3 linked regions of the Homo sapiens genome follow. The protein of the gene in region 1 purifies or fractionates together with the protein of each later gene. This does not show direct contact. Each region holds a gene or a part of one and is shown in the gene's direction. Other genes may lie near its edges. The genes, in order: HEATR3, DGKE and UXS1.

The links.
Region 2: the proteins of HEATR3 (region 1) and DGKE purify together in Homo sapiens (co-immunoprecipitation; 2 studies listed by BioGRID and IntAct, with this or other methods). This does not show direct contact.
Region 3: the proteins of HEATR3 (region 1) and UXS1 purify together in Homo sapiens (co-immunoprecipitation; 3 studies listed by BioGRID and IntAct, with this or other methods). This does not show direct contact.

The regions. Positions count from the first base shown.
Region 1 is NC_000016.10:50,082,937-50,086,682, forward strand, and holds part of HEATR3 (HEAT repeat-containing protein 3), read left to right. Parts: intron 1-1,000; coding exon 1,001-1,091; intron 1,092-1,171; exon of another isoform or gene 1,172-1,197; coding exon 1,198-1,355; intron 1,356-1,632; coding exon 1,633-1,715; intron 1,716-3,278; coding exon 3,279-3,415; intron 3,416-3,746. UniProt on the Homo sapiens protein: Plays a role in ribosome biogenesis and in nuclear import of the 60S ribosomal protein L5/large ribosomal subunit protein uL18 (RPL5). Required for proper erythrocyte maturation.
Region 2 is NC_000017.11:56,832,552-56,836,297, forward strand, and holds the start of DGKE (diacylglycerol kinase epsilon), read left to right. Parts: upstream 1-1,599; 5' UTR 1,600-1,709; exon of another isoform or gene 1,710-1,918; coding exon of another isoform or gene 1,919-1,954; intron 1,955-2,226; coding exon of another isoform or gene 2,227-2,244; coding exon 2,245-2,708; intron 2,709-3,746. UniProt on the Homo sapiens protein: Membrane-bound diacylglycerol kinase that converts diacylglycerol/DAG into phosphatidic acid/phosphatidate/PA and regulates the respective levels of these two bioactive lipids.
Region 3 is NC_000002.12:106,192,164-106,195,909, reverse strand, and holds the start of UXS1 (UDP-glucuronic acid decarboxylase 1), read left to right. Parts: upstream 1-1,608; 5' UTR 1,609-1,668; coding exon 1,669-1,762; exon of another isoform or gene 1,763-2,636; coding exon of another isoform or gene 2,637-2,712; intron 2,713-3,746. UniProt on the Homo sapiens protein: Catalyzes the NAD-dependent decarboxylation of UDP-glucuronic acid to UDP-xylose. Necessary for the biosynthesis of the core tetrasaccharide in glycosaminoglycan biosynthesis.

The DNA.
Region 1 (3,746 bases):
TGCACCGCCATGCCTGGCTAAGACCTTGTCTCTACAAAAATTAAAAAAATTAGCCAGGCATGGTGGCATGCACCTGTAGCCCTAGCTACTCAGAGGCTGCGGCAAGAGGATTGCTTGAGTCCAGGAATTTGAGGCTGCAGTGAGCTATGAACGTGCCACTGCACTCCAGCCTAGGCAACAGAGTGAGACTCTGTCTCTAAGGGGGAAAAAAAAAGACAATTGAAAACTGAAGTTTGGAAATATTCAAATAGTAAAATATACATTATTTTTAGCTCATGTACTGTTTTGGAATATCAGTATGGTTATTTCACTTTCCATAGACAATTTGATAATTAAGGTTATATAAATTTATATTACCCATTTTAAGAAATGTTGGTTGATAATGTTAAGTTTAAGTTGGCGTTATATATTTTCAGAGAAAAAAAAAGCTTCCTTCTTTCTTTAGTCTTAGAGAAATGCTTTATTATAGTCTTTACAGAAAGGCAGGAAGCAAGTCTGTCTGCTCCATAGCAAGTTCTACAGGTCACATAAGGGCTCGTTAGTAGTGTGTGTTAGCGCAGCCATTCCAAGAAAGACATCTAAGCTAAGCATCTAAAAGCAGGTTTGGTGTTTCTAAGTGCCTGGTGTCTGAAATGAACTCTTGTTTAAATCTTAGTATGCCCAGCTACTTCTTGACACAGTAGATAAGTTTCAGGGTGAATTCTGTTCAGAATTCCTGAATATTTGTCTGTTCTCTCCAGCTAACTAAGTGACGCTTGGGGAATAGCCATGCAGATAGATGGAAACCCAGTTAACGGGGGCATGCTCCACTGTACCAAGAGGAATTATAATGCTCGTTTGTACTTCTGGCACTTCATGACTTTTCTTTTACCTACCCCATTCCCCGTGTGCTCTATTCCAAGCGCAAAAATCTTCTAGTAGGCTTTCACTAAGGAAATTCCCCAAAAACATTTTCCCAACCATTGAGAGTTGGTCATTTACTTTTTTTTTTTTTTTTAAGCCCACTGACAAGGAACTGAGAGAGACTATAGCATTGCTGACAGCCCAACAGACTGCTCTGGAAATTATTGTCAACATGTGCTGCAATGAAGGTTTGTTAACATTTACATTTAGACATTTTCCCCCTGAGCCAAGAGGGAAACTCCCGTGGAGATTTTCTTAACTATTCCAGTTCTGCGTGGTTTGCCCGCTTCCCAGATCCCTCTGATGACGAATGGGAAGAGCTTTCTAGCAGTGATGAAAGTGACGCATTTATGGAGAATTCCTTCAGTGAGTGCGGGGGACAGCTGTTTTCTCCCCTCTGCCTCTCCCATGAAGTTCACACGGCTCTCACCAACTACCTCATCCCAAAGAAGGTAATCCATTTTCATTCTAGGCTTACCGTGGAGCATGGGAAAGGCTTAAGCAAGGTATTCATTTTGTGTACAAAAGAAGCAAGCTCACACTTCCAGGTTGTAGATGGTGGTAAGATCTGAGACAAAGCTGAGCCTAACAGTACTGGAAATAGGCGAAAAGGTCATTCTATATGAAGCCTAACCATTTCACTTAGGAGTAATATGTTGGAATTATGTAAGGGAATCGTGTTAAATGACTACTCTTTAACCTTTGCTTTACTGCCTCTTTTAAATCTAGATTTTTGAGAAAACTGCCTTTCCAAACAGCATTGCAGTTGACCTATGTTCTAGGAACCCTACTTGGAAACCTTTGATTAGAAAGTAAGAACTCTTCTGCTTTCAAAAACATTTGTCATTATTTTATTTTATGAAATGATGGGCTATTAAATAGAAGGTGCTGACTCCCCCTAGGACCCAGAAGTTTTGTTCCTGGGTATATATACCAGAAAAATATGTGCCCACATGCCCTAGAATACATGTATATGAGAGTGTTCATAGCAGTGTGTGTCACAGTTGCCCCAACCCATAAACAAACGTGTTGTCCATCAGAGTTAGAATGGTAAATAAATTTTGACAAAATCACGCAGTACAATACATGCAGCAGTAAAAGGGATCTGAATTAGAGCTACTCACAACTCGGATGGAACTTACATTGTTGAACCAAAAAAGCGAGACATAAAAGAATACACACACTGTGATTCAGTTTTTACAAAGTTGAGAAACAGGCAACATTGAACTATTTTGTTCAGGGATGCATACCTTGGTGATAAACCTATTAAAAAAAAAAAGAGGCAAGGAAATGTTTACCATAGAAGTCTGTATGGTGCTTACCTGTAGGTGTCAGGGAGGTGGGATATTATATGGAAGAGATACAGGGGCTTTCAGGGTCCAGCAGTGTTAATTTCTTTCCCAGGTGCATGGGTTTTGGTTTCATAGACTGTTTGTTAAACTCTCTATGTATGTTGTGTACTTAACTGTATATATGTCACATTTCACAATTAAAAATAATTTTAGGCTGGGCATGGTGGCTCACACCTATAATCCCAGGACTCTGGGAGGCCAAGGTAGGAGGATCACTTGAGGCCAGGAGTTTGAAACCAGCCTGGGCAGCATAGCAAGACCCCATCTCTACAAAGGAAAAAAAAATACAAAAATTAGCCTGGCATAGTGGCACTCAGCTGTAGTCCTAGCTACTTAGGAGGCTGAAGTGGGAGGATTGCTTGAGCTCAGCAGTCTAAGGCTGTAGTGAGCTATGATGGTGACACTGTACTCCAGCCTGGGAAACAGAATGAGACCCTGTCTGAAGAAAATTATAATTTTAAGGATGCTACCCTACATAGAAATTTTTCTAAAACATATTCCTCATGACTCATGAATGAGTTGTGTATCAGAGGCCGTGAATATTCAAGCAGTTTGATTTGGCAGATTAACAGTTCACCTTATAATTCTAGCACTTTGGAAGGTACAGGCAGGAGGATTGTTTGAGGCCAAGAGTTCCAGAGCAGCCTGGGCAACATAGCAAGACCCCTATCTACAAAAAATAAAAAACTTAGCCAGGTGTGGTTGCATGCACATGTAATCCTGCTCCTTAGGAGGCTGAGGCAGGAGGATCACTTGTGCTCAGGAGGTTGAGGCTACAGCGAGCTGTGATCACACCACTGCACTCCAGCCTGGGCAACAGAGTAAGACCCTGTCTAAAAAATGATGATAAATTTTAGAAAACACAAAAAACAGTTCACCTTGTGATTCTTTGCTAACTGCCATAGATACCTTGTATTTACAGATATTTCCAGTCAGAACGTGAAGCTTAGGCTAAAAGTTAATACTGAATTCTGATGGGCAACTTCTGGAGAATCAGATGGCATTGTTTCACTTCCTTTCCAGAATGAACACTATTCAGTGCAGAGCCCTCTTCTGTCTCCAGAGTCTTGTGTCCCTCCTGGATGTGGAGCACCTGGGAGGAGCCGCAGCCCTTCAGACGCTTGCACAGCATCTGTCACAGCTGCTTTTTTCTCAACCAGGTATTTAGACTTTATTGCGAAAGACTACGCAGACGGAACAGAATTTTGAAGGGGCAGGAATTTGGATTTTGTAAATGTATATTGTTTGTCATCCAATGTGCAGAAACCTTTCCCAGACACAGGAATCATGTATTTATAGTTGCCATGGGGTACAGAGTCAAAACGAGGTATGCAAGCAGCTCCTGGGCTTATAATTTTCTTTTTTGTTAAAATTGTTTGCATCCAGTTATATCAGGCCAGTCAAGGCTGTATCATAAATATCATAAAGGCCTCATTAAGGTATTTGGATAATTCTCAGCCAAGCACGGTGGCTCATGCCTGTAGTCCCAGC
Region 2 (3,746 bases), on another chromosome or scaffold:
ACTGTGGGAGGATAGGACCCTGACTCCCATAACAGCCATCTAACAGGCACTGTCGCCTAACCTTACTTACACTGACCCACCCTTCACAAGTTTCACTTTCCTGACTACTGAGTTCCTGCTCATCCCCTTCACATTCCCTCCTCCTCCCTCTTAAACACCTAGTCACTTCTGCACAAAGTTCAGTTCCGTTCACGAGGTACCTTCTTCCCTATTACAATAGTATATTATTAAAATCTGCTTTACCACTTTTACTAGTGTCTAGCTTTATCTTCTACAGTTAATACAAATATACGCACATACACATGCATATATATGCACACATAATAATATATACATACACACATACACGTATATATACATCTATATGTGTATTCTTAATGAATGTTATGTCTTCTCTAATCGTTTGGAAGATATTATCAAGTATTTCTTTGCAGTTTTCCTATGATCTCTGCGTTTCTTTTCTGTTCCTTTGGTCCCTTGCTTCGGTGTGTGTTTTCTTTCCATCTTTTATGCTAGAGGAAGTCCGCAAGCAACAAGTGGTCCTCGGCTCCCACTCCTATGTATGTATGTAGTAGGAAGGAAGCCGCTGAGTGCAGCTGTGCGCGCCGGGGCGGTGCCTGTGCCTCTCTGGATTCCGTGTTTCTTCGGGGGTGCTGAGCAGCGGTGCTTCCGCGTCCGCGTTCTCCGGGTAGCTGATGTGCTGCAGGCTGCAGCCCGCGTGGTCGCGGCTCAGGTCCGTGTTGGGCTGGTAGGACTCCAGCGGGGAGCGAGCATTCCTCCGGAACCTGGGGCTGGACGACAGCAGCAGGAGGCGTGCTCCCATCTCCGGTAGTCCCCGGCTCCCGCTGCTCCCCTTTCTCCCCGGCCTCGGGCGCTGGCGGGCGCGGGCGAGGGGGTAGCGCAGGGGAGGCCCGCCCGCCACGGCAGGGGGCGGAAACCGCGGCCGGGCTCGGGGTCAGCGGCGACGAGCGGGCGGCTGCCCCGCTCGCCCTCGGCCTCCGCGCCCGCCCGCCGCTCCGCAGCGGAGGAGCCCTCAGGTTTGCGTTACTGCGGCCGCCACACCTACCTCAGCCCGCCGCGGCCAGGTCGGGCGGTGCCGCGCAGGCCGCCTCCCCCCCTCGCTTCCCAGTCGGCTTACGCATCCCCGGCGGCGGCGGCGCCGGCATCGGCTAGAGGTTCGGCTCAAGTCGGGGGCACTCGTGTCTGCGCCGAGCGGCGGGCGTGAGCGCGGCCCCTGGGCCCCGCGCGGCGCGGTGCTGCGAGGAGGATCCTCGTGGCCTTGCCCCGCCGGCGGCTTTCCAGAATTTTCTACGATTACGAAGTTTTGGCATTCAACCCTCCATCCTCTCAAACGCCCCACTGTTACTCCGCCCCCTTCCCCTAGGCCCCGCCCCCAGCCGCAGTGCCCTGCCTCTTCCATCCGTCTCCAGCCTCCTCCACGGCCCCGCCCCCTCAGGCCGGTCCGTCTCCCCTCCCACCTCACACCTCCGCCCCGCCCGTCAGCCCTGGCTCCGCCCAGCCACGGGGCTCGCCGCCACAGGCCCCGCCTCCAGCTCGCGGCCCCGCGCGCCGGATCGGCGTGCGTGCGGCTGGAGCCTTAAGCGTTTCCCCCGCCCGGCTTCATCCCTGCTGGCGGCCCAGCGTCGTTCTCCTCCTGCGCGAGGCGGCCAAGGCCTGCTGGCCCGGAGCCGCGCCTCCACCCGCGCGAGGTAGGGCTTCGAGGACCGGCGCGGCGCAGGTCTCCGGAGGCCTCCCGAGAGGGGCTAGGGTCGCCGGGCCGCGCGTGGGAGCGGGTGGGGCCCGGGAGGAGACGGCGCCCCGGAGGGGAGTGCGAGGCCTGGGCCGACGGTTACGGGCGCCGACCGGCGTTGCCTGGCCTGAACGCCCGGCCTTTCGGTGGAGGGCAGCTTGCCCCTGTATGTTGCGCCCTTCCGTGGGTCAGACCGGCGGCAAGGTGAGGCGGCGGCGGCAGCAGCAGCCGCCTTGGGCTCCTGGACGCGCTCCCGAGGTGGGGCGGGTTGGGGAGTGGGGATTGGAGCGTGATGGCTGGACGTCGCCTTCTCGGCGCGGCAGGTCCCGGGAGACGGGGGGACGAGGCGCAGTCCCGCCCTCGGGAGAGCGGAGCCACCTTCACTGAGGGCGCCCGGTTTGGCCCCGGAAAGGCAGGAAGGGGGCGGGGAAGGGATGGCGAGCTCGGGGTGCACCGCCTGTTTCTTTTCTGGTTAGGTATCGTCCTTGGAGAAGATGGAAGCGGAGAGGCGGCCGGCGCCGGGCTCGCCCTCCGAGGGCCTGTTTGCGGACGGGCACCTGATCTTGTGGACGCTGTGCTCGGTCCTGCTGCCGGTGTTCATCACCTTCTGGTGTAGCCTCCAGCGGTCGCGCCGGCAGCTGCACCGCAGGGACATCTTCCGCAAGAGCAAGCACGGGTGGCGCGACACGGACCTGTTCAGCCAGCCCACCTACTGCTGCGTGTGCGCGCAGCACATTCTGCAGGGCGCCTTCTGCGACTGCTGCGGGCTCCGCGTGGACGAGGGCTGCCTCAGGAAGGCCGACAAGCGCTTCCAGTGCAAGGAGATTATGCTCAAGAATGACACCAAGGTCCTGGACGCCATGCCCCACCACTGGATCCGGGGCAACGTGCCCCTGTGCAGTTACTGTATGGTTTGCAAGCAGCAGTGTGGCTGTCAACCCAAGCTTTGCGATTACAGGTATGGTCTTCGTGGACACTCACTGTCCCAGAATGCGCCGTGGGAATCAGGATTTCATAGAGTGGTGTAGAGGCCTGCTTTAATCTCTGCTGATGACCTAAACTCATTTTGAGGAAACAAGCTAATAAATAAACATCCCTGAGTTTGTGCAAGCGTGGCAGCTTTGCAGTAGTCATTTGCTGAGACGATGCATCCAGCCTCCACTCCTCAGCCAGCCTGCCCTTTTGGGTAATAAAACTTGGCTCCTAACGTTAATACAGAGGTTTCTAAGTGGTGCCTGCTTCATGGCCACTGTATATTTTAGCTTTTGTTCCTATCGATTATCTCCTTATTTTAAATAAGGAAAAATGAAATATGGACAAATTAACTTTTCCCTTCAGCCGCAAAACTGATGGGTCACAGGTTTTGTACTATGAATGTGCAGTGAAAACAAGTGTCATTCCAAGGCAGCACTTTTATGTCTTTTGCTAATATAGCTGTTGGTACCATAGCGAAATATACTCAAAAAGAACACTGAAAGGAATATTCCTTTTGACGCTTGGTCTTTCAGGACATGTAGAATCTTAGATAAGTGACCTTGATTAAGCCAAGAATATTTTAATGTCTTTTATATACACACTGGACAACACATTTTTGTCCTTAAATATTGTTTGAAAATAGGTGAAGATGTCCTTTGCTGATGTTGGAAATTGGTAAAGGAGAATGCTGCTTTGCAAATGATCTATTCTAACTCAGTTCACAGTTGAGAAAATTAAAGCCCGTTAGGTCCACTCTGGTAAAATAGGACTGGCCTCCAGGATTTCCAGCTCTGGACTAACACTTAGCCTCCTTTGAGCCTTAAGTCTGGACATCTTCATTGTAATGGGTTTTATTTCTGACAAGTAGAAAGGCGCATAAACATGCTTAAGAAATGAAATAGGCAGTAAATAGGAAGCTGCTTTTTAATTTTTTTAATTTTTTTTGCAGAAATTCTTTCATTAGCATGAACGCTATTATAATGTCAATACCTGTTTTTAAGTCTTATTTTAAATAATTTTA
Region 3 (3,746 bases), on another chromosome or scaffold:
TTCTGCTCCTCATCTTTAATCTAAAAACCACGGAGTCATGGAATGGGAAAGGCCTAGAGCTCCACTTGCTCTAGTTCTCTTTTCAAAAACCATAGCCAGAAAGCCACGAGGAAATGCAGACTTACAAACAAAATCGATTTGTTCCAAACTGGTGTGCTCTGGGGGCCTGGCCCCTCTGGGAACCCAGGACTCAGGCTCCCATGCCAGGTGTTTTGTCACTTGGCAGCCTCCTTGGACACGTCAGAGTCAGGGAGCTGGGCTTCTCGAAAGAAGTCCACTCCATCTATGGGCAGCATGCATAGCAGGGGCAATCCGCCTTAGCAAACCGCTCAGTGTTTCCTCCTAGTCAGGGATTCTCAACAGGTTTAGGGGAGGGGTAGGATGGAGGTAGGTTTTATCAGAATCACATCATTTGCACTATAGTTTGAAAGATGTAACATAAAGCTGCTGCTTTAGTACCAGCTGCCATATTTCCTTTTCTTGGAGGTTTCTAATAAATCTAAAGGAGGGTGATCTATTAAGTTTTGCAAAATGGCCTGAGGTTCCAAGAGGTAGGAGAGCCGCTGCTGACTTCAACTTCTCCGTATAGCTGAAGATGACCTCTTGAAGCCTGCAGATCCCAAATCCGGGATCTCTCTTAATGTGGCATCACACACATCTGTGTGTACCTGTCTTTTTTTCCTCCATGGGACCAGCTCTCTCCAGATCCAATGACAAGCTTCCGATTATCTGTGGATCTTCTGATACATCTCCTTGCTTGTAATCATCATTCAGTAAATGCTTTTTAAACACAGGTACCTCCTATGCAATCAGTACAGCACTCATAAAACAGATATACTCAACAAAAAGATTGAATGAAACACACACGACAACATGGTCAGGGTTTTTCTCTAGGCAGAGACAGCGCAATTTCATCTTTTCTTTTCCAAGTCTATCCTAAATTAATATACTTAGCACTGCTTTTTAAAATAATAATAAAAGACTATTATTAAAACAAAGGCACCCCAGTTGATCATAGCCAAGGAAAAAAAACGCAGCCAGTTTTTACTTCGGCAAGGTTTAGGGGATTTATCATTTTCGCTGCCGATATTCTAACTAAAAAAAGCCAACTAAACAGCCCAGAGAACGAGGCAACTTTCTGAGGCAGGCATTCAACTTCTAAGGCTCGGCCAAGTTTAGCAAATAAGTTTCGTTTCACTGCAACACCGGAATGCCCACCGCGTGCCCCCCTCCGGGCGGGGCTCGGAAACTGGCCACTGCAGTCGTGCCCTTGGGTTGGGGACGCACCTCAGCGAAACGAATCCAGCCGCACCTCCCGGCTGGCACCCGCGCGCTTTAACTCAGGGAAAACAGACCGGAACGCGCATGCGCCGCGGCGCGCCGCACCGCCCACCAGCCCTCCAGGTCACATTCTTCGAAAACCAAGGCAAGAAAGGCGGCAACTGCGCCTGCGGGTAGAGAAGCCGGAGGGGCGGGGGCGGAGCCGGAGGAAGGGGGTGGAGGCGCGCCTGCGCGGTGATCCCGCCAGCAGGAAGCAGGCGCGCGGGGGCGGGGGCGCGCGGCGGCAGGAGGCGGGGCTCTCGGGGCCGCTGCCGCCGCCGCCGCCGCGCATTGTGCAGCAGGCGGGCCCCCGCGCGGTAGGGCCCTGGACCCGCGCGGCTCCCGGGGATGGTGAGCAAGGCGCTGCTGCGCCTCGTGTCTGCCGTCAACCGCAGGAGGATGAAGCTGCTGCTGGGCATCGCCTTGCTGGCCTACGTCGCCTGTGAGTGCGCGCCCGCTGCCAGCTGGGGAGCCCCATTCATTCCCCGGCGCCGCGGTGGGCCGGGCGGCGGTGGTTCGGGGCCCCGAGGCGGCCCTGCAGCCCCGCGTTGCTCCCCGCCCCGGGCGGGGCCGGCGCTTTCTGCTCCCACCCCTTTCCACTCTTGCAGCAAAGCGGGCCAACTTGGGCGCACACCCCCTACCGCTTAGGCCCGGGCGCGGACCCCGGGCGGAGGGGCCCCTAGCAGTCCTCGGGCGGCCCCAGGTCTCTGCCTCCTGCCCGGGCGCGGGGGACTCGGCGGCGGCGCTGTCGTCCATGTCGCGCTGGGAGCCGGCGAGGGTCCCGGTCGGGGACTCCGGAGCGTGCCGCGTGGGGATACCCTTGGGGACAGCCGAGGTCGCGCCGCGGTGTCGGTTAAGTCGGATAAAAATACTGTGGCCATTGGCAGAGCCCCCGCTCCGACTGTTTGCTCCTCAGGAAAATTACTCAGCGTTTAACTCTTGGGGAGCCAAGTGTGGGCGGCTCCCCGGCCCGCGGCCGTGCCCAGGTGTCGGGGCGCACCGGCATCCCCATTCTAGGTTTTCCCCCGGGGCTCGGCGGCCGGGCGAAGCAGGCAGGCAGCTGGGTGGCCGGGCAGGGCGTGCCTGCAGCTTCTCTGTGCGCGGGTCCAGTTTCTGTCATCGCTCACAGCATGCTGCCTGGAGACAGGGCAGGAGGGGCACTTCGCAGGCAGGTGGTCGGCCCTCTGCTTGTTAGGGAAGTCAGAAACCGTCCTTTTAAAGATCTATTCGTTGGGAATGTTTTAATTGATGCTATTAATACGTTACCAAGTAGCAAAATTGGACTAGAAATAGCTCCCAGTGTGAGCTGCGTTTGAATGCTAGCCACCCAGACACACACTGAAATGAAATCACCTGCTAACCTGTTGGCGTTACCAAGATCTGATTCCAGAGGTGAGTGGGTACTTCACTTGTCTGAAGTGACTTCAGTTGAGCTCTAGGAAGGCAAGTATGAGTAGATCCAGCCTGTGTGCTACAGCCCAGCTGTTCAGGAGGTGGAGCTGGAAAACCCCAGCAGGACTCCGGGTTGCTAGGGGAGGTTTCAGGCGTCGGATGGGTGTTAGATGTGTGTAGTTTTGCAAGGGAGGAAGAACTAGTCTAAAGTGTGTGTGTGGTCAATCTTGAGTAAGAAAGCTGAGACCCAAGAGGAAAGACCATTTAAAGTTGAATAACTATTATTATGGCAGTAATACTACCTACATTTGTTGAGTGCTTAACTGTGTGAGTCATGATTCTTAGTGCCATTGTCTCAATCATTGAGCAACCCTGGGAAATCGGTACTATAATGATTCCTATTTTAGAGGTGAGGAAGTTAAGGCCAAGAGAGATTAGGAAATTTATGGATGATCACACAGATAGTAAGAGAAGGAGGGCCAAAATTTGAACCCAGAAAGGCCTGGGAGCAGGAGCTAGAACCCAGGTCTTCGAACAGCAGTTTCAATGTTTATTTTGGGGGTATTCTATAGTCGCTGCAAGGGTTTAGAATTAATAAAGTAGGGGATTTATGGAGCCATGGGAAGTTTTTTTTTTTTTTTTGAGACGGAGTCTCGCTCTGTTCAGCCCAGGCTGGAGTGCAGGGGCGCGATCTCGGCTCACTGCACGCTCCACCTCCCGGGTTCACGCCATTCTCCTGCCTCAGCCTCCCAAGTAACTGGGACTACAGGCACCCGCCACCACGCCCGGCTAATTTTTTGTATTTTTAGTAGAGACGGGGTTTCACCATGTTAGCCAGGATGGTCTCGATCTCCTGACCTCGTGATCCGCCTGCCTCGGCCTCCCAAAGTGCTGGGATTACAGGCGTAAGCCACCGCTCCCAGCAGGAAAGTTTTTTAACCAATCATTCATCTGACCAGGAAATCTTACCAAGTCCTTACTGTTGTCCCTGAATTTGGCACTAGGAGACACCATGGGGTGCTAAAACTTAACTG